Regions from separate parts of the Homo sapiens genome. Here region 1 is reported to be linked to region 2. Evidence: microRNA targets listed by miRTarBase, many of them from high-throughput screens and not tested one by one. Region 2 holds a microRNA gene; the other region holds the end of a gene's coding sequence.

Region 1 (3,000 bases), not on the chromosome of region 2:
CTCTGCCCTCTGGAAACTGGTGCTGTGTTTTGCTGATACCAGGGACTCGCTGAAAATATTTGAAATGAATATGATAGTGACATAAATAAAATTCACCTGGGCAAGTGGGACAGCTTGCTGCTTGGAAAAGAGTCGAGGAGCATTTCAGTTCTTTTTAGACCCTGAGCCATAGAGCTAAACTTTATGTGTATTGCAAAATATCTATAAGAACTGCTGATGTAAATTGGAAAGAATGGGACATAGTACCTCTGTCTTTTCATCCTGTTCTACAGCAGAAATAGGAATCATTATGCAGCAGAGCCCCCCTGTATTATACTTAATTTACATATTTATTTGTGTGCTAGTGGATTAGAACACTGTTTATTTTATTCCTCCATTTCGATCATTTACTCTATTAGGCTTCTAAGAGCAGTTAAACCAATCTTCTCACCTACAATGGACATAAAACCCCAGTTTAATTGGGGTGTTATGAAAACAAAATACTCTGTTTGTAGAATCCTTTGAAGTGTCAGATACAAAGTCATGTTGCTGTGTTGGTTGCTTTTCTTTTTTAGGTGGGCTGGTTTCCATCCACATATGTGGAAGAGGATGAATAAATTCAAATCCCGTGTTGCACCCTGCACCAAAAATTTCAGAGAAGGGATAAATAGAAGCCTGCACAGCATCGTGAATTAACTGAAGTGTTTAAAAAGCTGCATTTCTGGCTGTTCAACATCCTCCCTCCTTAGCCCCTCCTAAGTCTTAATGCTGAGATTTCTAAAGATGCTGGTACTGACAGATTAATGGCTTGCCTAGAGCTGTGCAAGAAACAGCCTGCCAGTCTGTCATTGTCAGGGACCAGGGCAAAACCAAGAGCTGTTCTTCCCAGAAGAGCCCTGCAAACACATTGGTTCGTGCTTCCCTTTACTTCTTCTGGTCAGATACCATGAATGCCAGTCATCAGTAAATCTTAATACACTTTTGCTTTATTCTCACATGCCATTCACCAGATTATTTGATGGTACAAAGAAGCAGAAGTGTAATTTTCCTTTTCCCAGCATGACGAAAAATTGGAGTTCTGCCATTTGAGCAGCTTACTGGAAAGATCCAGCCTTACTTGTCTTAAATTGTCCAACAAGGTGACTCATTGCCCGGCAAACACTTTTACCCTCAGATGTTACTCATGATATTATAAAATATGAGGCCAGTGCTCAGGTTTGCATCATAAGTGAGCTATCCCTGAAGGGTTTTAATTACTTATTTGGTGTCCTGATTATATTTGCAAACTTCTTTATAAAAGGTGAAAAAAGCACACAAAAGAGAGGGTGTCTTCATATTAAACCTTCACAACCTTCATGATTTCATAGGATTATTTTGGAAATATAGCACTTGACTTTATGAAAGGATCTGGGCTAGGTATATTAAGGGTAGTTGCCAATAACCTGAAGAAGCTGGCATTGTTTACAGAAACAGATCAAGGGCTATAATTTATGTCATTTTATAGCAGCAGTATCTATTAATACATGCCTTTTCCTCCCATCCACCTCCCCCGCACACACACAAAGATGACCTGGGACATGATTTTTTTATTCCCACATTTTCTTGGAGCACAAACAACTTTGTTGAGGATTTTGGAAGGAAAGCACAACTGGGTCCTTTATTCATTTCTGGGACAGAAAGAGGGTCAGTGGACTTTTGTGGGCCTCCAGCTTCTCTCAGAGTCTCCCCCTCTGCAGCCCATCCTGGGAGTGTATTAACTGGAGGGAAGATGGGTCTTGCAGTACATTTGTTTTGCCCAGCCATCACTCTTTTTTGTGAGGAGCCTAAATACATTCTTCCTGGGGTCCAGAGTCCCCATTCAAGGCAGTCAAGTTAAGACACTAACTTGGCCCTTTCCTGATGGAAATATTTCCTCCATAGCAGAAGTTGTGTTCTGACAAGACTGAGAGAGTTACATGTTGGGAAAAAAAAGAAGCATTAACTTAGTAGAACTGAACCAGGAGCATTAAGTTCTGAAATTTTGAATCATCTCTGAAATGAAGCAGGTGTAGCCTGCCCTCTCATCAATCCGTCTGGGTGCCAGAACTCAAGGTTCAGTGGACACATCCCCCTGTTAGAGACCCTCATGGGCTAGGACTTTTCATCTAGGATAGATTCAAGACCTTTACCTCAGAATTATGTAAACTGTGATTGTGTTTTAGAAAAATTATTATTTGCTAAAACCATTTAAGTCTTTGTATATGTGTAAATGATCACAAAAATGTATTTTATAAAATGTTCTGTACAATAAAGTTACACCTCAAAGTGTACTCTTGGAATGGATTCTTTCCTGTAAAGTCTTATCTGCGACTCTGTCTCGGGAATGTTTTGTCTGTTGCCGTCAGCCGAACTTTGTTATGGAGGGAGCAGCCTCACACAAGCAGAAACACTCCTGTGGATGGTATTGTAGCATGTATTGTTTATTTTAGTCAATAGACCCTCTCCTTATAAATGGTGTTTAGTCTTCCTGTTGCATTTCATGGGCCTGGGGGTTTCCTAGCAGAGGATATTGGAGCCCCTTTTTGTGACATTACCAATTACATCTTTGTCCACGTTTAATACTTTGTTTTGGAAAATTTAAATGCTGCAGATTTGTGTAGAGTTCTAATACCAAAGACAGAAGTAAATGTTTTCCATATACTTTGTCTTGCCTGTATGCAGCCCTCGTGTAATACGGTGAATTAGAGTGGTATTTCACTTTGTATTATTTTGTAAATATGTCAATATAATAAATAGTGACTAAATTGATTTCTAAGAGTTGGAGTCTTTTTATTGAATGATCCCTGTATTAGTCAGGGTTCCCCTGAAAATGGATGGCACTGGATTGTTGGGCCTGTACCAGGCCATCGCCAGCAGTCCAGAGTGAACAGAAGCAGTGTATGTGTGGAGGTCACCACCCCCCCGCCCGCCAGCCCCGTGGACGCTATGCGTCTAGTAGGAGGGCCGCTGCGGTGAGTCTTGAAGCCCAGGGCTGGGCCCGGG
Region 2 (3,012 bases):
AGTGCAGCCCAGCCCTCATGCCCAGGATCAGCATGCGCATCTCCATGTCTGCATACTCTGGAGTTCACTTTCCCAGAGCTGGGGCAGGCCGGGCAGTCTGCGGGCAAGCTCCGGGGTCTCTGGGTGGAGAGCTGACCCAGGAAGGGCTGCAGCTGAGCTGGGGGTTGAATTTCTCCAGGCACTCCCTGGAGAGAGGACCCAGTGACTTGTCCAAGTTTACACACGACACTAATCTCCCCTGGGGAGGAAGCGGGAAGCCAGCCAGGTTGAACTGTAGCGAGGCCCCCAGGCCGCCAGGAATGGACCATGCAGATCACTGTCAGTGGAGGGAAGCTGCTGACTGTGATTAGGTGCTGGGGTCTTAGCGTCCAGCGCAGCCCGGGGGCATCCTGGAGGCTCTGCTCCTTAGGGCATGGTAGTCACCGCGAAGCCGGGCACCGTCCCACAGCATCTCCTAGAAGCAGCCGGCACAGGAGGGAAGGTGGCCAGGCTCGAAGCAGTCTCTGTTTCCAGCACTGCACCCTCAGGAAGTCGCCCGCCCCAGGACACGCAGGGACCACCCTAAGGGCTGGGTGGCTGTCTCAAGGACACATTGAATACGTTGTGACCATCCAGAAAATAAATGCTGAGGGGACACAGTCACAGTCTGTGGGTCACACGCGCGAGCGGTCACAGGGCTCAATCACTCGCCCACAATCTAGACATGAGGCTCTCCTTTCACATTTCAATCACACAAACGTGGGACGTTGCTTTTCCCAGAAGGGAGCACACGCAGAGAATACACTGAGGTGAAGGAACAGGCCCATAACACAAAGGAAAAAGCCGGCTAGATCAACGCCCGGTGACAGGCTCTTAGTCTAAAGACAAGAGCAGGTGGGGCTGTGTGGGAAGCACAGGTCTGGTGGGAGAGAAGCTGCTGGCATCAGGGTCACCCGTGGGCATTTGCCATTTCCCAGAAATAACTCCTCATCAGCTCCCTTTTTAGTTATTTATGGAGTCTTGCTTTGTTGCCCAGGCTGGAGTGCAGTGGCGCAATCTTGGCTCACTGCAACTTCTGCCTCCCGGGTTCAAGCCATTCTCCTGCCTCTGCCTCCCGAGTAGCTGGGACAACAGGCACGCGCCACCACACCCAGCTAATTTTTGTGTTTTTAGTAGAGACGGGGTTTCACCATCTTGGTCAGCCTGGTCTCGAACTCCTGACCTGAAGTGATCCACCCACCTCAGACTCCCAAAGTACTGGGATTACAGCCATAAGCCACCGTGCCTGGCCCCTTTTTATGCACTGTTTTGTGTTTTGTCTTTTGGAGACAGGATCTTGCTCTGCTGCCCAGCGTGGAGTGCAGTGGTGGTATCACAGCTCACTGCAGCCTCAAACACCTGGGCTCATGCAATCCTCCCACCCCAGCCTCCGGAGTGGCTGGGACTAAGGGCATGCGCCACCATGCATGGCTAAATTTTATTTTTAGTATAGACGAGGTCTCATGTTGGCCAGGCTGCTGCCAAACCCCTGACCTCAAGTGATCCACCTGCCTTGGCCTCCCAAAGTGCTGGGATCACAGGCGTGAGCCACCATGCCCGGCGAATGCACTATTATTTCTTATGGTTTTCTAAACCCGATTTGAACTTCTGCATTTTACATTCCCTTAGAATTCAGAGTTTTAGAAAAGACTTGTTTTCATCACTTTGGCTCATTTGGGACAATTTCAAGTCTGTGTTTTTATCAGTCTCTGGAAATTTATGAAAGCTGCAAATCGTCTCCAGTAGCTCTTTTATTCCCTTTAAACTTCTGCCATCTAGTTCCATGTTATAAAAAATATAACGTGTTTGGGCAGTGTTTAGGCCACAGCCACCCATGTGTAGCCACCCCTACACATGGGTGGCTGTGGCCTAAACACTGCCCACGAGAAAAGTTCTGAAGTGGGCCCTTCTGGCCCCACAGCCTGTCCGCAGGGGCTGTGGCCTCTAGGTCGGGCCTGGGGCTAGGAAGAGGGAAAGGTCAGTGCACGAGGCCACCCAGCTCCATGTCCATGCCCATGGCCCTTCTGCAGGGCATCCTCAGACTTGTTTTCAAGCCCATGTGTTAGAGATTTAGGAATGTGTCATTTTTCTCCTGTGACACCCTAAAAGAGGGTTGGGGAGAGCGTATAGGACTGAGGGCACAGCCCGCATGAGGCACACACGTGTGAGGCCAGCGTACACAGGACACGCACAGGAGATACCATCCTTCCCGGTAGCACGCTGCCAGCACCAGCAGGGGTCTTTAAGTAAGGACTGGCACAAGTAGAATGCCTTCTTAGGAAAATGATCCGCAGCTCAGGAGGCTGCTGCGTGGGGACCGGGAGGGGCAGGTGCATTCAGGGCGTCTGTGGCAGGGGCCCAGGGCTGCACCCAAGCCTGGAGCTTAGATGACCCCAGGAGCAGCAGGAAGGGCCCATCTGGCATCCCAGGGAAATCCTCAAGGCCTCTGGAAACTCAGTGCTGGAGCTGGGTCACCAGGGGTGCCCTAAGGAGCCTGGGACTGAAGCCTCAGGACCCTGCCCTGGCCGATTTTTGTCTGAGCTGTGGCAGTTCCCAGCCCACGGGAGGGCAGGGGAAAAGAGCCTTGGGCCCAGGGATAGGAGTGACCGGCCTATCCACGCTCCACCCTAGACCACGGAGGGGGGCCACACATTCTCTACGGACACTGTCCCCAAACAACTGTGGCATCTGACAGAGCCAACTCCTGCCCTGCTCCCAGTTCACCTTAGACCTGGGAAACGAGGTTTTGACTTCACTGCTCTGCATGGCCTGGTGCAGGGCTCCCGTGAGCAGACGGCCCATGGGCCACGAGCCAGGTATGTGGAAGAGCCTGTGCCTTCTGTCCTCCAGGCCGGCCCAGTCCAACGGCGTGGCTCAACTGAAACCACACCCAGAACTCGGAGAGGGGAAGACCTCGCGGTGGGGCGGGCCCAGGCCAAGCCCCTCCACTGCCATCACAGGTTTACAGCGGAGCAGAGGGGCAGGCCGGATACA

What was found. The annotated mature microRNA hsa-miR-4717-3p reads ACACAUGGGUGGCUGUGGCCU and lies in region 2 at 1,838-1,858, opposite strand. An mRNA with a match to its seed (bases 2 to 7 or 8) in the 3' UTR can be bound and repressed. Matches are read on the target gene's strand: a 7mer-m8 pairs with bases 2 to 8, a 7mer-A1 pairs with bases 2 to 7 and ends in A, and an 8mer does both.
Region 1: the mRNA of VAV3 is a reported target of hsa-miR-4717-3p. The part of its 3' UTR that is shown has no 7-base or 8-base seed match.

Annotation. Positions count from the first base shown.
Region 1 is chr1:107,570,927-107,573,926 of GRCh38, reverse strand. It overlaps VAV3 (vav guanine nucleotide exchange factor 3), which reads left to right. Exons shown (of 27, transcript NM_006113.5): 27 at 555-2,766. The coding sequence ends at 596. Among named protein-coding and RNA genes, the nearest start is that of MIR7852, 320 kb to the left of the region's middle.
Region 2 is chr16:2,273,507-2,276,518 of GRCh38, reverse strand. MIR4717 (microRNA 4717) reads right to left here and starts at 1,899; the gene lies at 1,828-1,899. ABCA3 (ATP binding cassette subfamily A member 3) reads left to right here. Exons shown (of 33, transcript NM_001089.3): 33 at 1-638.